2 separate regions of the Homo sapiens genome follow, and region 1 is linked to region 2. Evidence: fine-mapped expression QTL. Tissue or cell type: nasal epithelium. Region 2 holds a variant in brackets; the other region holds the start of a gene. All regions are shown on one strand. Distances are between the middles of the regions.

Region 1 (8,104 bases), 50 kb after region 2:
TCCTCATCTGCCAAATGGGGAGAATCTGTTTCATAAACTCCCCCAGTGTTGTAAAGATCCAGTGAGACAGGGTAGAAAAGTCTCTGCTAAATAGTAAAATGTTTTCTAAATGAATGATGTTAAAAGTTTATCATTACATTTAATATATTCATTTCATTTAACAACACCCATAATCTGTAGGGTAGATATTATCATTTACATCTTTATAGATGAAGAAATGATCTTGGAGAAGACGAGACCCAAGGCCACAGAGCGAGAAAAACCCAGCTTAGAGTCCAGCCCAGGACTTCTCAGCTATGACCAGAAGTACGCGGTACACAGATGCACTGGTACACAGAGGCACGTGGTACACAGAGACATGCGGTACACAGAGGCACCAGTACGCAGAGGCACACAGTACACAGATGCACTGGTATGCAGAGGCACTGATACACAGATTTACTGGTACACAGGGGCACTGCGGTATGCAGAGGCACTGGTACACAGAGGCACGTGGTACACAGAGGCATCGGCATGCAGATGCACCTGGTACTATGAGGCATGCGGTACACAGATGCTCTGGAAAGAGCAACCATCTGATGGCAGGATACCTGAGCATGAGCCTCCTGGGTAAATTCCTCCACTTCAGTCTCTCAATTTCCTTCTCTCTAAAACGGAGGTAACACCATCCATCCTATTTCCCTGGAAAGGTTGTCGCCAGGACCCCATGAAACCACGATGCAAAGGCTCCCGGGGCAAGGGCAAAGTTTCCTAATTTGAGACCAGGGAAATCTAGTTCAAGAGAAGAGACTCATGATCAGGAAAAGGAAGGGGAGGACCGAGGGTAGTAATCACATTCAAGGAAAGTCAGCAGCTAATGTGGTAGGTGGAAGAGGAAAATTAAGCAGTCCAGAGCTGTTTAGAAGACGAAAGGTCACACAAAGGAAGGGACTTCAAATACATTCAGCTGTCCCACTGTGCTGCCTTGGGGTTATACAGAAACATTTTGCAGGGAATGCACACACACAATCACCAACAGACTTCCAATAGCCTCCTTGATGATAGGGAGGGGGGTGGGATTTGTTTTAAAATAGCCTTATTGGATAAAATTAAAAATGAGCAATTCTATTGCAGGCCTCCCAATTAAACTAGGTTTTCATTTACTGATATATGCACTGCAAAAGTTTGAGGACCACTGTTCTAAAACAACCTCGTAGTGTTGCTGACCCTCTCATTGCTATAATTACATGAAATTTCATTTACCCAGTAAAAATTATTAAGCATCTGCCCTGTGCCCGGTACCCTTCCAGGTACTGAGGATGTGAGGACAATGCTTTGTAAGATGCACACACATCAGGGGAGTTATTAACAAAAAAGGCATTTTCACCACAAGCTTATGATGCCGTCACTGCCAAATAACTATTCTGTTTTTATGATGCTCATTAAAAAGCCAGGAGGGGAAATGTCAGTGTATATTACCGAGCGAAAGACACCAATCTGAGAAAGCTACGTACTACATGATTCCAATCATAAGACATTCTGGAAAAGGTAAAACTATTGAGACAGTAGAAAGATCAGTGATTACCATGTGTTGTAGGGAGGGTGGGATGCACAGAAGATTTTTACGGTAGTGAAACTATGCTGTTTGATACTATAATGGCAGATTTATGTCATTTTACATTTGTCCAAAGCCATAGAATGTACAACAGGAGCAAACCCCAGGGCAAACTGTGAACTTTGGGTCATAATGATGTGCCAGTGTCGGTTCATCAGTTGGAACAAATGTACCACTGCAGTGGGGGATGCTGACAATGGGGGAGTCTGTGCATAGGCGGGGACAGGAGGTATATGGGAAACCTGTACCTTCTGCTCAATTTTGCTTTGAACCTAACACTCTAAAACTGGGTCTCAGTTTCCTCATCTGTAAAAACATGGGCTTCTGACTATGATTCGGATATCCCAGGGGCTTGTGCCTATTGAAGAGAGGGGAAATACTGGCTGTAATCTCTGTACGGTAGACCAAAAACCAGATTTAATGAAAATACACTGATGGTTTTCAGCCAGAGATGATGAGGAAAGCAATCCTCTTCTCCAACCTGGGATTTGCCTGGGGACCTAGTCTGAGAAATTCTTACACTACTAGGAGATGGCTCTGGGCTGGATTTTACAAAAGAAGAGTAAGGCCTGAGGAGCTCTGAACCCCCATCAGTCACAAGAGAGGATGGCTTCAGCCTGCTGAAAGCCAGCAGCATTTACAAATTCATGCCTGTGGCTTTTGCCAACTCTAGTGGTACCTTTCTGACCTCTTCACTTCTCTGACTCTTCAATAAATCGACATTTCTTAATATAGTGTCACCTTAACAGCAAAAGAGACCTTGAATTTTTGGGACTGAATTTATAAAACACTTAGAGGTTCTGGGGTTTTACTTAAAGCAGCTTGTAATTTGAAAAATGTACACGTTCTAATTATTCCAATCTCCAAGACATCAAACACATGGCATGAGGTCCCCATTGCTAAGTCCCCTTTCAGCTTCAGCTGGAGCCCTTGATTCCACAATCACAAGCAGCAAGGTGCCCTCCTCCCTTCTCTTCTGTCTGGTGCCCCCAGCAAGTTTTCAAGGTTCAATTCTGAGACTCTCCCATTCACCGTCCCAGCAGGTGGCCAAGGGCCCAAGGCGGGAGGGAAAGGTCGGCTTAGCTAGGGAAAGTTTTGTTAGCCTTATTGGAAGGGAAGGAGACATGCAGGAAGCAGGGCTGAGCCAGGTGGGGGAAGTCACCAGAACGACAAACCCCTGGACTTCCCACTGCCCAAGCGCGAGGACTCTCGGGGCAGCCGGCCCCTCTCAGGTTCTGCTTGCAGACACTTCGCTGGGGGCACTCGTTCTGCCTGGGAAAACTGCCCCAAGTCCCCTTAACACCTGTGTATGTCCTGTAGTGGGGTGTGGGGTGGAAGCGAGCATGTCACCAAAGCCTTTATTCAAAGGGCGAGTCCCTTTCCGCGGCCGCCAGGGAAGGGGGCCCCGCTACTGTGCCAGGAGGGCAGCTTGGGTTTAATACATGCCCTCCTCCACCCCTGTACCCGGAGCCCCTACCCACTTACCTGCTGACCGCACCCCTCCCAAAACCCCGCCAGCTCGCCCGGGACGGACCGCGAGTGGCCACGAGGGAGGCGCGCGCCAGGTGCGCTCTTCCCCCGACGCCGCCGTGCCAGGAAGGCCGCGCTCAGGTGCGCGCAGACAATGCGAACAAAGCCCGCACCCTCGGCGGGGCCGCGCAGCCCGGGTGCTCTGGGTAGGGGTGGCTGGGCAGAGGGGGCCCCAGTACCGGGAGCGTGAATCGGTCATCGGCAGCCGGCACTGGCGGGTACCCGGGCGCCAGAGCCAACTCGGGGCTGGGACTCACCGGAAGGAGAGCGGCGACCAGCGCTCGGTGCCCGGGCGGCTCTACTCACAGACCCGGGCGCGGCTCGGGCCAGGGGGCGCTACGGGATCACAGGAGGGGCGCCCGGGGCGCGGCTGCCACGTGGGACACCTGTTTGTCTCTCCTGGGAGAGGGCGGCACGACCCGACCCGGCTGAGGTCGGAGGAACTACCGCCAGGGAGGTGCATAGAGCCCCTCGCGTTTTTTAAAGCGGCATCGGCCCAGGTCTGCAAATAAAAAAGTACTTCACTTCTACGCGGGTCACCCAGCCTCCGAGCGGTGCAGCCGCGAACACTGTGCCGTCAGCTGACTCCTCCACGGGCTTTATAGCTCCTTGAAAAAATGTTGACTTTGGCATCTTTTCTATTTGTCATGGCAATTGCCTTTTAATTACCTGTCCCTCCTATTGTTGCAGTTGGGTAATAAGCCGACCTTTTGGCCATCATCCTTGCTTAAGATTGGAGGGCGTTTGATTTTTAAAAAATCAAATGCCACAAAGCACAATGCTGAGCATGATGCTTTATATAAAGTAAGCTCTCAATGAACGTTGACTATGACTGCACAATCCATAATTTCCATACTTCATTTAAAAACTGCCAGAGCATGCCTGTTCATTGCAAAAAAAAAAAAAAGAAAAGAAATAACAGTAAAAAAGTTGATAAATCAATCATTTTCCAACACCCAGAGATAATCAGTTAACATTGTGGTGTATGTTCTTCCAATGTCATTCTACCTATGCAAAAATTTATATATTTTTAGTTCATTCCATACAAGCTGTACATTACTCAGGTTTTCCATTTCCTTTTTTTGAATGTCCGTTTTAAGCCACTTCATAATGTCCTAATGTACTTAACCTATCTGCTATTGTTGAATATTAAACTTTCCATTTTAATAATACAATTAGATGTCTTTGTGCTTTTGTCCAATTAATTCCTTAGAATAAACTACGAAAAGGTAAATTTCTAGGATACAGGTTTTATACAACTTAAGACTTTTGATGCCTATTATCTAATTGTCCTCAAGGAAGGTTGACCTGCTTCCTCTTTTCCATGCTCCTTCCCATTATTCTTGTAAATGTCAATCTGATAGGAAAATAATTTGCTTTACACCTTTCCTGTCTGTAGTTCTCAGTTAATTTCCAAACCTCCGACACTGACAGCTTCCAGTGAAAGTGGCCCGTGGTGACTTTAATGTTGCAAACCTCATTGAAGGAGGCTAGGAAAGGACTCATTTTTCCTGTAATTCATTTCTCCCAGTAACATTTACTGAGCACCCAAAAATAAAAACAGGGCCACACCAGAGCAGCAGACATAATGTACCACCACATCATCCCCACAGGGGACAGCAGTTAGTCTTGAGGTCTAACTGCTGGGGAGGGATGGTCTCTGCCTCTAGATCAGCATTGCCCCAGAGAAATACTGACCAAGCCACGTGTGTAATTTTAAATGTTCTAGTGGTCACATTTAATAAAAAGTGAAAAGAAACAGCAAGCTGGATTTCAGTATTAACCTAAACATCCGGAACATTATCTCAACATGTAATCAATAAAGATGTTTTATGCTGTCTTCAAAGTCCTGTTTTTTTGTTTTTTTTTTTTTTTTTTTTGTTTGAGACAGAGTCTCACTCTGTTGCCCAGGCTGGAGTGCAATGGCATGATCTTGGCTCACTGCAACCTCTGCCTCCCAGGTTCAAATGGTTCTCCTGCCTCAGCCTCCCGAGTAGCTGGGATCACAGGTGCACACCACCATGCCCGGCTAATTTTTGTATTTTTAGTAAAGACAGGGTTTTGCCATGTTGGCCAGGCTGGTCTCAAACTCCTGACCTCAGGTAATCCACCCGCCTCAGCCTCCCAAAATGCTGGGATCATAGGCGTGAGCCACCACGCCTGGCCAATCCTGTTGTATTCTATACTCACAAGCACATCTCAATTTGGACTCGCCACATTTTTAAGTGCTGTATAGTCAAATGGGGTGAGTGGCCTGTGCTGCTCCAGAGATGTCCAACAAGGGCAGACCCCAGGTCCTCAAGAAAGTGGAAATTCTACCTTTGACAACCCTCTCCCTGTACCCCTTATGCTGTTTAACAGGTACCAGCATACTTTGACCTTATCAGGCTTACCTTGGAGAAGCCAAATTTCAATCCTGGTTGTTCCTGAAGTATTTGGCATGTCTTTAATTGGGGGCGGGGGGGGGGGAGGTATTTCACATTTTCATTCTGTGATTATGAAGAACTGAAAGCATAAATACAGTGAAGATACCTGTTGCTTCAGACTTCTTCACATCAATGTATAATCAGTCTGTCCGGGGTGTGCACTTGGGCAGGAGGGAAGGCAGGTGGTGCAGGCCCTGGTGAGTGCTGAGTGCTGAGTGGGTGACCAGCAGGGGTGGAGGCTTTTTATGCAGAAAGCTGGGTAGCTACTTTTGTCATCCATGACATCCCTTCCTTTGTGAAGATTTACAAGGATTTAAAAAATAAAGTTATTATGAATTACAATCATTCTAAGGGGCATGTAAGCTTCTTGCTTCCCAGGAGCTTGCCTTATTCATCTTTGCAGCCCAATGCCTGGTAACTTGCACACAGTAAATGCCCTCAGAAATAAAACCCCATGTCCTCCACTGACTGAAAGGACCCCCTCTTGTCCAAGGGGACCCCAGAGAAATATTTTTGAGACTGAGTCTCGCTTTACTGCCCAGGCTGGAGTGCAGTGGCTGGATCTCAGCTTACTGCAACCTCCGCCTCCCAGGTTCAAACGATTTTCATGCCTCAGCCTCCCAAGTGACTGGGATTACAGGCGCCCACCACCAGGCCCGGCTAATTTTCGTATTTTTAGTAAAGATGGGGTTTCACCATGTTGGCCAGGGTGGTCTCGAACTCCTGACCTTAAATTATCCAGAGAAATCTTAAAAGCGGAGTTCCCATATATGACTGGAAGGGAGACGGGAAACAGCTTGTTATACCTGCTCCTTCACTATCAGCCATTAGTTTTTTTTTTTTTTTTGGAGAAAGGGGCTTGCTCTGTTGCCCAGCCTGGAGTACAGTGGTGTGACCTTGGCTCAAGACCTGCCTCGACCTCCTGGGCTCCATTAATCCTCCCATCTCAGCCTCCCGAGTAGTTAGAACTACAGGTACGTGCCACCACACCAGGTTTTTTTTTTTTTTTTTTTTTTTTTTGGTAGAGATGAGGTTTCCTTGTGTTGCCCAGGCTGGTCTTGAGCTCCTGGGCTCAAGCAATCTGTCCATCTCACCCTCCCAAAGTGCTGGGGTCACAGGCATGAGCCACAGTACCCAGCCTTCTTTCTTAAGGGTTAAACAGAAACCAGCCCTTTGGGAAAGACTTGCTCCACCCCTGCTATCTTTGAGGGTCTCACTGTATCCCCCAGGCTGAAGTATAGTGGCACAATCATAGCTCACCACAGCCTTGACCTCCTGGGCTCAAGCAGTCCTCTTACCTCAGCCTCCAGAGTAGCTGGGATTACAGCCACGTACCATTGCACTGGTGGTTTTTTTGTTCTGGGTAGAGATGAGGTGTTGCTCTGTTGCCCAAGCTGGTCTTGAACTCCTCAAACTCAAGGAATCCTCACAGTGCTGGGACTGCAGGTGTGAGCCACTGCACCTGGCCTCTACTATTGATATGAACCAACCACTTGATGCTGCCCCTTCCTTTTAAGGTTTCAACAAACCAAGCAACCAGCATTCCTTCCTAAGAGACAATGGACCATGGAGTGGCTCTGGCTAGTCTATAGAAGATGTACCATGAGAGTTGTGTCCTCTGCTTCACCTTTTGACCCAAGAGGGCCAAAAACTCCACCCCAGAATCATGCTAATACCATTTTTTTGTACATGTAACCCATCAAGAGTCATGAAGCTTAATTGCACATGTACATCTTTCATAAATATTCATGACTCCTCCTATAGTTTACTGTGTATTTGGCCACTCCACTCAGCATAAATTCCTGTCTTATTTTTCCCAACCTGGAAGTGTGTTTCTGGTTTCTGGCTGGAGGCTACACTTTCCAGACTGTAGCAATGGCTACCCTGCCAGTGGCCACGCTTTATGAAAAATAAAGCTCTCCTTTCCAAATTCATGAACTTTCTCATTCTTCAGTTGACACCTTCTATGATGTTAATTCTCAAGTTGCGCTGTCCCGTGTGTCTCAGTTGTAAACACAAGAGGTATAAACACAGAGTCTTAGTGTAAACTGAGAGTGTAAACACAGAGGTGACTGAATTTCACTCAGGGATAAATGGAGACATCCGTACTCGGTGACATGCATCACCCAGAGGCACCCATTGTAGTAAAGTGACTGTGGCTTCAGATTAGGGGGCTCCTGCCTACTGGCTTTGTAACACAGAAAAGAAACTTAACTTTTGATTGCTCAGTTTCCTGACCTATAAAGGGTGATGGGTACAACAGTTCCTAACTCTAGAATCCCAACTAATATTTTGATCCAGTCCCTCAAATGATGAAAGGTAAAGCACACACGAAAGGAACAGACAAAAAGGAGGATGCTTAATAGAGCTCCAAGAGTTGTATATTTTCCAGAAGCCACATAGCAGCCACTAACCAGAGCCCTCTTATTGAGAAATAAAAGAACACGAAACAGTACCTACTAAACAGCAAAGAAACCATCCTAGAGGAAACAAAGAGCCTGACTCAGAAGCGCTCAACAAGCAGCAAATTAAGCCAGAGCCTAATTTGGTCTGT
Region 2 (8,104 bases):
TATTTATAAAGAAAAATGGGCCAGGCACAGTGGTTCACCCCTGTAATCCCAGAACTTTGGGAGGCCAAGGCAGGGGGATCACCTGAGGTCAGAAGTTCGAGACTAGCCTGGCCAACATGGTGAAACCCTGTCTCTAACTAAAAATACAAAAATTAGCTAGGCATGGTGGCACCTGCCTCTAATCCCAGCTACTCAAGAGGCTGAGGCATGAGAATCACTTCAACCTGGGAGGCAAAGGTTGCAGTGAGCCAAGATTGTACCACTGCACTCTAGCCTGGGCAACAAGAGCAAAACTCCGTCTCAAAAAAAAGAAAAACGATAAAGTGTCTGGAGTCACATCAGAGCTCTAGAAAGATTTCTACAGAAAATCCAACTCTAAACAACACAACCAAGGAGAAGAAGTAATTCCTAAATACTGCAGCGATAGGGAAGTAAGTATCTAGTTTGCCAGAGAATATTCCAAATATGCCTCTTTGCCACATAGGTACAAATATCCCTGTTTAATAAATAACCAACATTTCTTGAAATATTTCTTTAAAAACTGTGTAGAAAAGCAAAGCAAAACAAAATTAAAACCTAGACAGCGTAAGATCAATGCTTTAAAAAGCAAAATCTCTGTAAGTTTCTTTATCCTATATTTTTGAGTTTAAGAATCTTACTTCTCTTTGCCCCACTAAAAGGAGAATAAGGAAAGAATTCCATAAACACGCCACAATTAACCCCTCCTAAGTACATTTTTTTCTTTTTGAGACAGATTTTTACTCTTGTTGCCCAGGCTGGAGTGCAGTGGTGAGATCTCGGCTCACTGTAACTTCCGCCTCCCAGGTTCAAGCCATTCTCCTGTCTCAGCCTCCCGAGTAGCTGGGATTATAGGCATCCACCACCACCCCCGGCTACCTTTTGTATTTTTAGTAAAGACAAACTTTCACCACGTTGGCCAGGCTGGTCTCAAACTCCTGACCTCGGGTGATCCACCTGCCTCAGCCTCCAAAGTGCTGGGATTACAGGCATGAGCCACAGTCTCTGGCCGCAGCCTCTTTTGAAAGGAAGACCCTTCAGGTGGACACTGCTCACGACTCAGAACGATTTTACGTGGCCCCTCCAGACCTGGGCCCATTGCACACTCAGCCCCTCCCCCATCATCAAACAAGCTGGTTAATTGGTCACATTTCAGTCTGAGACCTTTCCAAGTCTCTTCCACACACAAAAGGCAGTCGCCAGAAGTCACAAACGTCCCTCAAGCCCCCTTTCAGACTCAATGCAAATGCATCCAGAATGTCTCTGGGGAAGTGGAAAAGCTGCTGCTTTCCATCTTGAAAGGCCGTGGCCTTCGCCGTCCAAAGGATGCTCTAGTAAAGGCCTCTGCTGGGCATTACTGTGTCAACAACATTCTGGCGAGCATTGATTGTGTGCAAAGGAACGTCAGGCCGCTAAATTTAAGTCTTCAGGACCCCTTGTTTATCCTCAAGGGAAAGGTGGCAGATGACATAGCCTCAACAAGGCACAGCAGGTACAGAAAGTGGGTATTTACTTACACATCAAAACTTTTCAACAACATCGTTTGTGGGTGACATCAGCTGCTTTCTTGTCTCTAAGCAGCATGGCTGCAGTTGGGACATCCTCCTCCCTCAGTGAGAATAGTGGTCCTGGCCACGGCGGGAAGCAGACATTCTAAGGACCTGGGGCACAGACATTCCAGAAGGTAGGCACCATTTCAGTGCCCAGGCCTTCTCTGTAGTTGCTGGGAGGGGTACGGCTGCTGCCCTCCTGCACGGGAGCCATGTGCCTCAGGGGCGTCTCAAGAATCCTGGGGAAGGAAGTGAAGTCTGAGGACAGGAGTGTCTGCATCCCCTTCTCAGCCCTCCAGCAGCCTCTGAGGACCCCTTCAGGTCCTGCTCTTACTCTACAACCCACCTCGCCCCCAGCAGAAGATGCCAGATTAGAGACCCCATGTGATTATCCTCCAGAGCTTCTCTCTGGCCTTAGGAAGCCAACCTCTGCCCGTGGCCAAAAAACCAAGGCTCCGACTGGACTTGTCTTCTGATTTCTGGCTGTTCTAACTTCAAACTCATGAACAGGAGCCATAGTTGGACCTCTAATGCCTCCCAACGATCACTCTCTAGGTCCTAATCTGTTACCCTTGACAATGACTTCTTTTCTCTCAAACCTCTAGCACCTCCTCCTCGTCCTCACTTAGCTGTTCCTCCCATTTTACTGAGCAAATAGCACCCCAAAAAGAGCTTCCAGCAGCTCCCACCACCGCATTTACCCATCCCTGCCTCCGTCTACATCCCTGTACCCTGGATCTACTGTGCTCCTAACTGTGGCCTCCCTCCTAGTTGTCATGACTTTCTCCGGGGTGCTTAGCACCGTCTACCACACCACATGTTGTATTATTTGCTTATTGTCTGTCTTCCCATTAGAATGGAAGCTCCATGAGGGCAGAGGTTTTATTCATTTGTTTACTGCTATGTTCCTGCACTGAGAACAATGCCTGGGATGCAGGAGGTACTCACTAAATGTTTCGTGGGTAAACGACTGAATAATTTCTTCCACTGAACGAATGTTTTAGAACCTGCCTTCAGCTGAGTTTGTGGGACTTGGCAGGACTCGCAATACCATCCCTGGCTCACACATACAGAGCAAGAGCTCCACTCACGGTTCTCGCAGTGGGGGCCCTCCCAGCCATCCCGACACTTGCAGCGGTAGCTCCCATTCTGCAGGACGCAGCTGCCCTCATTCATGCACGGGCTGGGTTTGCAGAGGTTGACTGGCTGCTTGGCTTCTACAATGGAGAACACCATACCCACCAGGCCGGCCAGGCATGGGTTAGACCCGAAGACCCCTACCCTAAGTAAGCCCAGTAGAGGTGCAAGGCTACTAGAGTCATGTCTCCCTTTGCCCCGGTAGCTCATGGTTGGTGCTGCATACCACTTGGCTAGGTTAGTAAGACCCAGCTCTCCTACAGACTCATGGAGAGTCCATTGCTCAGACGTGCCATACACATGGCAGACTTTTTTTTTTTTTTTTTTGAGGCAGAATCTTGCTCTTGTTGCCCAGGCTGGAGTACAATGGCGCGATCTTGGCTCACCACAACCTCCACCTCCCGGGTTCAAGTGATTCTCCTGTCTCTTTTAAGAAGGTGAAGAGGAGGTCACTGGATTTGGGCTGGCCTGGCCCTGTTTGCTCTGGGCTCTGTCACTGCCCAAGTCAGTGTGAATGTGGGATCTTTAGACCCTTAGGAAGCTTGTGGATATTCTAAAAGTGTGTTCTGTTTAAAGGGAATGCATAAATTCTCAAGTTTGGGGGGAGTTATCTATGTTAGTTAAACTTTCTGTACCTTAAATGTCAAATAGGATGGTTATGCCTACTGTAGGATTTTATGTGAGCATGGGGTTTAGCACAGAACCTGGCACTTGGGAAGCAAGTGCTCAGTAGCTGGGAAGAGCTGCCATCCTCGTCATGATGTATGTGAAGGCTCAGGCTGAGGGCCTGCCATGGGGGCAGCCCTGAGGGTGTGGATTCCCCCACTCACCTCCACACAGCCACTCAATGAGCACGTCCTGGTGGTACCGCAGGTCGGCGTAAGCTGCCACGTGGATCAGGGAATCCCGGGGACCTGCAAGCCTCCGCAGACCCTCACTTAGGACAGGCCCCACGCCCACGACCAAGACAGAGATGCCATTGTTCCTCAGCTTCTGGGCAGGAACGGCTGCATCCTCTGCGCCTCTCCCGCCTGTGAGCACCACCACAGCTTTGGGGACACCAGGCCGGGCACCCCTCTGGACGGTCATCACTTTGTCATAGATGTGCAGCAGGGCGGTGCCGGCTGAGCCCACCCCACCTAGGTAGGGGGCCTGGCTAATGGCCCGCAGCATCGCAGCCCGGGTGGGTTTGGTGTCCAGCCCGAAGGCAGTCTGCACCTGGCTGCCATACACCACCAGGCCGACCTGTGTCACGTCAGGGTTCACCTCAAACTGGAGGGCACAGCTTCTCACAAAGCTCTGCATCTGAGCAAAATTCTCGGGCCCTACTGAGGCAGAGGTGTCCAACATGAAGACGAGGTCCAGGGCTTGTGTCCGGCACCCTGCAGGAGCAAGCAGAGGGGCTTCAGCAGTGGATGTGCCAGTCAGAGCCCCTCGACGGGACCCAGGGACTGCCAGGTTGGGTAGGACCAAGGTCAGCCAGGGTGCTCTGTTCACTGCAGAATACACCCTCTATGTCTTCCTTTTAGCCACAGAACAGCACTTTCCTAGAATATTAGCAGGAAGATGAGTGCCTGCCAGACCACATTTCCCAGACTTCCTGGCAGCTAGGGTGGCCACGTGTCTAAGTTCTATCTGACGGACGTGATCAATTTCAAACTCATGCAGCTGGAAGCTGCTTACCTTCCACTTCCCCTCTCCCCCTTCCTGCTGGCTGAGAAATGGTGACCTTGGACCTCAAGGTGGAAGCCATAAGATGACCAAGCCCTGCTGGCCCGGGCCACTCACCTCTGAACTGTA[T/C]GTGAGAGAAATAAGTTCCTGTCTTATGTAACCCATGGGGTTTGGGTTTGTGGGCAACCCTTTGTGACAACATCTTCACCTGTGCCTTCATCCATCCCCAGTATGCAGGGCACTAATTAGATGCTGTATGGACAAAATGGGCCCATGCCTGCTGTCAACAGGCTGACAGTCTAGGGGAACAGACATGAAATGAACATAGAATTACAAATGATGTCGGCAGCGTGGAGGGAAAAGCAGGGGACTTCGAGAGAGACCAGTAGGGGAACATAACAAGACTGGGAGAAGGGGTCAGAGCTTCTCTGGGGAGGTGACATTTCACCTAAGAACTGAAAGACAAGTAAGTATGAGCCAGAAGGCCTCTCCTGTGCAGGGGATGCAGAGAGGCCTGTGGGGACCAGGCCACAGGGAGCTCTCAGAAGCCAGGGGAAGGAGTTTGGGTTTTATTCCAAGTGCAAAGGGGAACCACTGGAAATTCTAAGTATGGAGTTAGAGGAGCTGATGCTCTGATTACTGGTTTTTAAAACCACTCCCACACCAGGAACGTCTGAGAAACTATCACAGCTACGGGGAAGGCGGCTGACTACATGTACTGTGGGGTCCTGGATGGGATTCTGGAACACAAAAAAGACATTAGGTAAAAACTAAACAAATATAAATAAGCATGGATTCACTAAATAATGATGTATCAATACTGGTTCATTAATGATAACACTGTGCCATACTAATGCAAGGTGTTAATAGGAGGGGAAACTGGGTGTGGGGTATAGGGAACTCTCCACTATTGTCAATTATTTTTTCCTATAAATCTACAACTATTATTTTTTTTAAAAAATCCAACCAAACAAAGCAGCAGAACAAAAGCACTTAGACCAGCCTGGAGGGGCAGGGTGGGAGTGGGCAGCCAATCCCTGTCCTTCCGCCTTACAGGAGGGAAAGCCTCTCGCCTTGGGGAGAGTGGTGGCATCAGGGCTGAGAAGCAGAATCACATCTGTAGCTTCCCATGCCCACCTACCAAGGGGAGAACTCCAGGAGCCCTATAAAGGCTTACATTTCACTCAAGCCTGTAATCCCTCCACTTTGGGAGGCTGAGGTGGGTGGATTGCTTGAGCCCAGGAGTTCGAGACCAGCCTGGGCAACATAGCAAGACCACATCTCTCTAAAAAATAAAACAATTAGCTGGGCATGGTGGTGTGCACCTGTAGTCCTGGCTATTCTGGAGGCTGAGGTGGAAGGATCACGTGAGCCCAGGAGTTCAAGGCTGCAGTGAGCTATGATCGTGCCACTGCATTCCAGCCTGGGTAACAGAGCAAGACCCTGTCTCAAAAGAAAAAAAAGACGTGTTTCAGCTACTACATCTCTGGCCATGGGCCAGGCCTCTGCGTGGGGACAGTGTTCTCTAGAGTGCCTTCCAATAGGGGTCATAAAAAATCAGCTTCATGGCTTGCAAAACAGAACAGAAGAGAAAAATGTCAGAATGCATCCCAAGTAGACAGGGTAAGTATCCTCTCAGGAAGCGTTTGTTTCAGTTGTGTGTGGCTGCACCAGCGCGTGTGCATGCACATGCATCCGTGTGTGTATGTGTGCATACATGTGCATGTGTGCACCAGGAACACACTTTTCTGTGGATTGCCATCAAAGGAGCTGGGAAGCTGCTGCTCTGGAGCCTGCTTAGTAGATTCAGAGCTCTTAGTAACAACAACAATAAAATCGTGATTAAGAATGATAACAGCAACACCTAGAGTTTGCTGAGTGCTTACTCTGTACTAAGCATGTACACTGCCCATCTTACCTAATTCTCACTAAAGATCTCTCAGGAGGTACTACTATTAGTCCCATTTTGTTGACAGGTAAACTGAAAATTATTTATGTGACTGGTGCCTGAAAGAGTGGGGCTGTGGTTTCAGCCCCTAGAAGAGGCACTGGCAGAAAATGATGGTTAGGTGGTGGCCAAAAGGAGGAAGGACCCGCCCACTGACCAGCGGTCCTGGGTCAGGCACTGGGACCTTACCTGGCCGCTGCCGGCTGCACAGCTTCCCCTGCAGCTCAGGGATTTGGTTGAACAGATCCTGAGGATCCGAGTAGACCATCACATGCTTTGGGCTGCCTGTGATCTCCTCCAGCTCTGCCCGCACGGCCTCACTGCCTACACCCAGCAGGAGCAGCTCTCGCGCCCTTGCGTGACGCGCTGGGCCCGCAACCTCATCCTCGGAGTGTGACTCAGTGAGCAAAACCACCACTCTACGTGGCCGGTCCTGGCCTGTCCTGGTGGCGCTCCCGAAGCCACGCTCTGCCGCCTGCCGCAAGGCACTGCCCGTCAGGGTGGGGCCACCACGGAAGGGAATGCCATCGAGGCTCCAGACCAGGTCAGGCACATCCTGGTACTCCCCCACAGGCACCGCCACCAGCAGCTCCCTGCTGTATGTGGCCACACCCACTCGGGCCCGAGAGTCCTCGCTCAGCACGGCCCGCACAAACCGCTTCACGAAGACTTTGGCCCGCAGGAAGCCGTCCAGAGTGGTGCCCGCAGAGCTGTCCAGCAGGAAGAGGAGGTCGACCCTGCATTCCAGGCTCAGCTTCAGGGCTGCGGGGATCACAGCAACACCCACTGTCAAGCCATGGTCATGCGGCATGCGAGCTGTCCCACCCGAGATGCCGAACATCTCCCAGGAGGGAGATGGTGCAGAGAAACTGTGGGCCCCCCAAGCTTAAGTGACCCGTGCTCGTCACAGAGTTAGAGACAAGGCCAGACATGGCACTCCTGGCACTCGCTAAGGGTCTCCATCTAGCCACTTTTTAAAGAAAAATGCCATCTACATTATCACTTTTTTCCATTATGGTTAGTCCTGTGTGTGTCCTGAGAAATCTTTGTCTGCCTCAAGATCATGAAAATATATGCTCCTGTGTTTGCTTCTACAGGCTTCACTGCTTTGCCTTTTGCACAGAGGTCTATAGCCACGCTAGAATTGACTTCTGGTAGGGTTGTGAGGTACAGGGTCAAGATTGTTTTCATACAGATCTTCAACTAACCCAGTATCACTTGTTTTTAAAAGTTATTATTCATCAAGCCCTTATATGCGTCAAGCATGGTACTAAGCACTTTGCATAATCTTATTTAAAACTCTCAACCACCCAGTGAGGTAAAGCCTACTATCATCTTCATTTCACACCTCTAAAATCAAAAGGAATCGGGGCTCCTTGCTCTGCTTTCATAGAATAGAGAAGAAAAGACTCTGCCCAGGACTGGGAGCCAGAGTTGGGTGGACTCCTGCCTTCAGCTGGGCTGGGCAGCACTCAAACTTCAAGCAGTGACCATTCTGCAGCTAATAAGCTGGGAGCCACTGTCTCATCCAGAGCTCAGCCACCCCAATTATCTACTCACGGAGCACTGACAGGCTGCACCACGTGAACTGCAGACCAGTGGTGCATTGGAAAGCAGATGGTTCAAGGGCCAGTTTCTACCCAGCAGCTGGAAGGGCGTGCAATGAAAAGGGGAGCCCGTCCTCTTCTTGCTCCCCAGTGGTCAGTCTTGCAGGGCCGGTGCATACCTACCACAGTTAGCCTCCCCTCCAAAGGCCAGCGGGCAGAGGCACTGGTAGCCG

Evidence for each region. PIP is the estimated chance that this variant, and not a neighbour inherited with it, causes the effect.
Region 1: VWA2 starts here. The variant in region 2 is fine-mapped to the expression of VWA2 in nasal epithelium (TOPMed, PIP above 0.99).

What each region holds. Positions count from the first base shown.
Region 1 is chr10:114,234,847-114,242,950 of GRCh38, reverse strand. It overlaps VWA2 (von Willebrand factor A domain containing 2), which reads right to left and starts at 3,697. Exons shown (of 14, transcript NM_001272046.2): 1 at 3,382-3,697. RefSeq lists an enhancer at 3,078-3,786.
Region 2 is chr10:114,284,921-114,293,024 of GRCh38, reverse strand. It overlaps VWA2 (von Willebrand factor A domain containing 2), which reads right to left. Exons shown (of 14, transcript NM_001272046.2): 10 at 8,055-8,104; 11 at 6,514-7,086; 12 at 3,536-4,087; 13 at 2,660-2,785; 14 at 1-1,807. The coding sequence ends at 1,788. It also overlaps a transcript of AFAP1L2 not described here. Among named protein-coding and RNA genes, the nearest start is that of VWA2, 50 kb to the right of the region's middle. RefSeq lists an enhancer at 6,818-7,429. The variant T/C (reference allele first, on the strand shown) is at 4,506.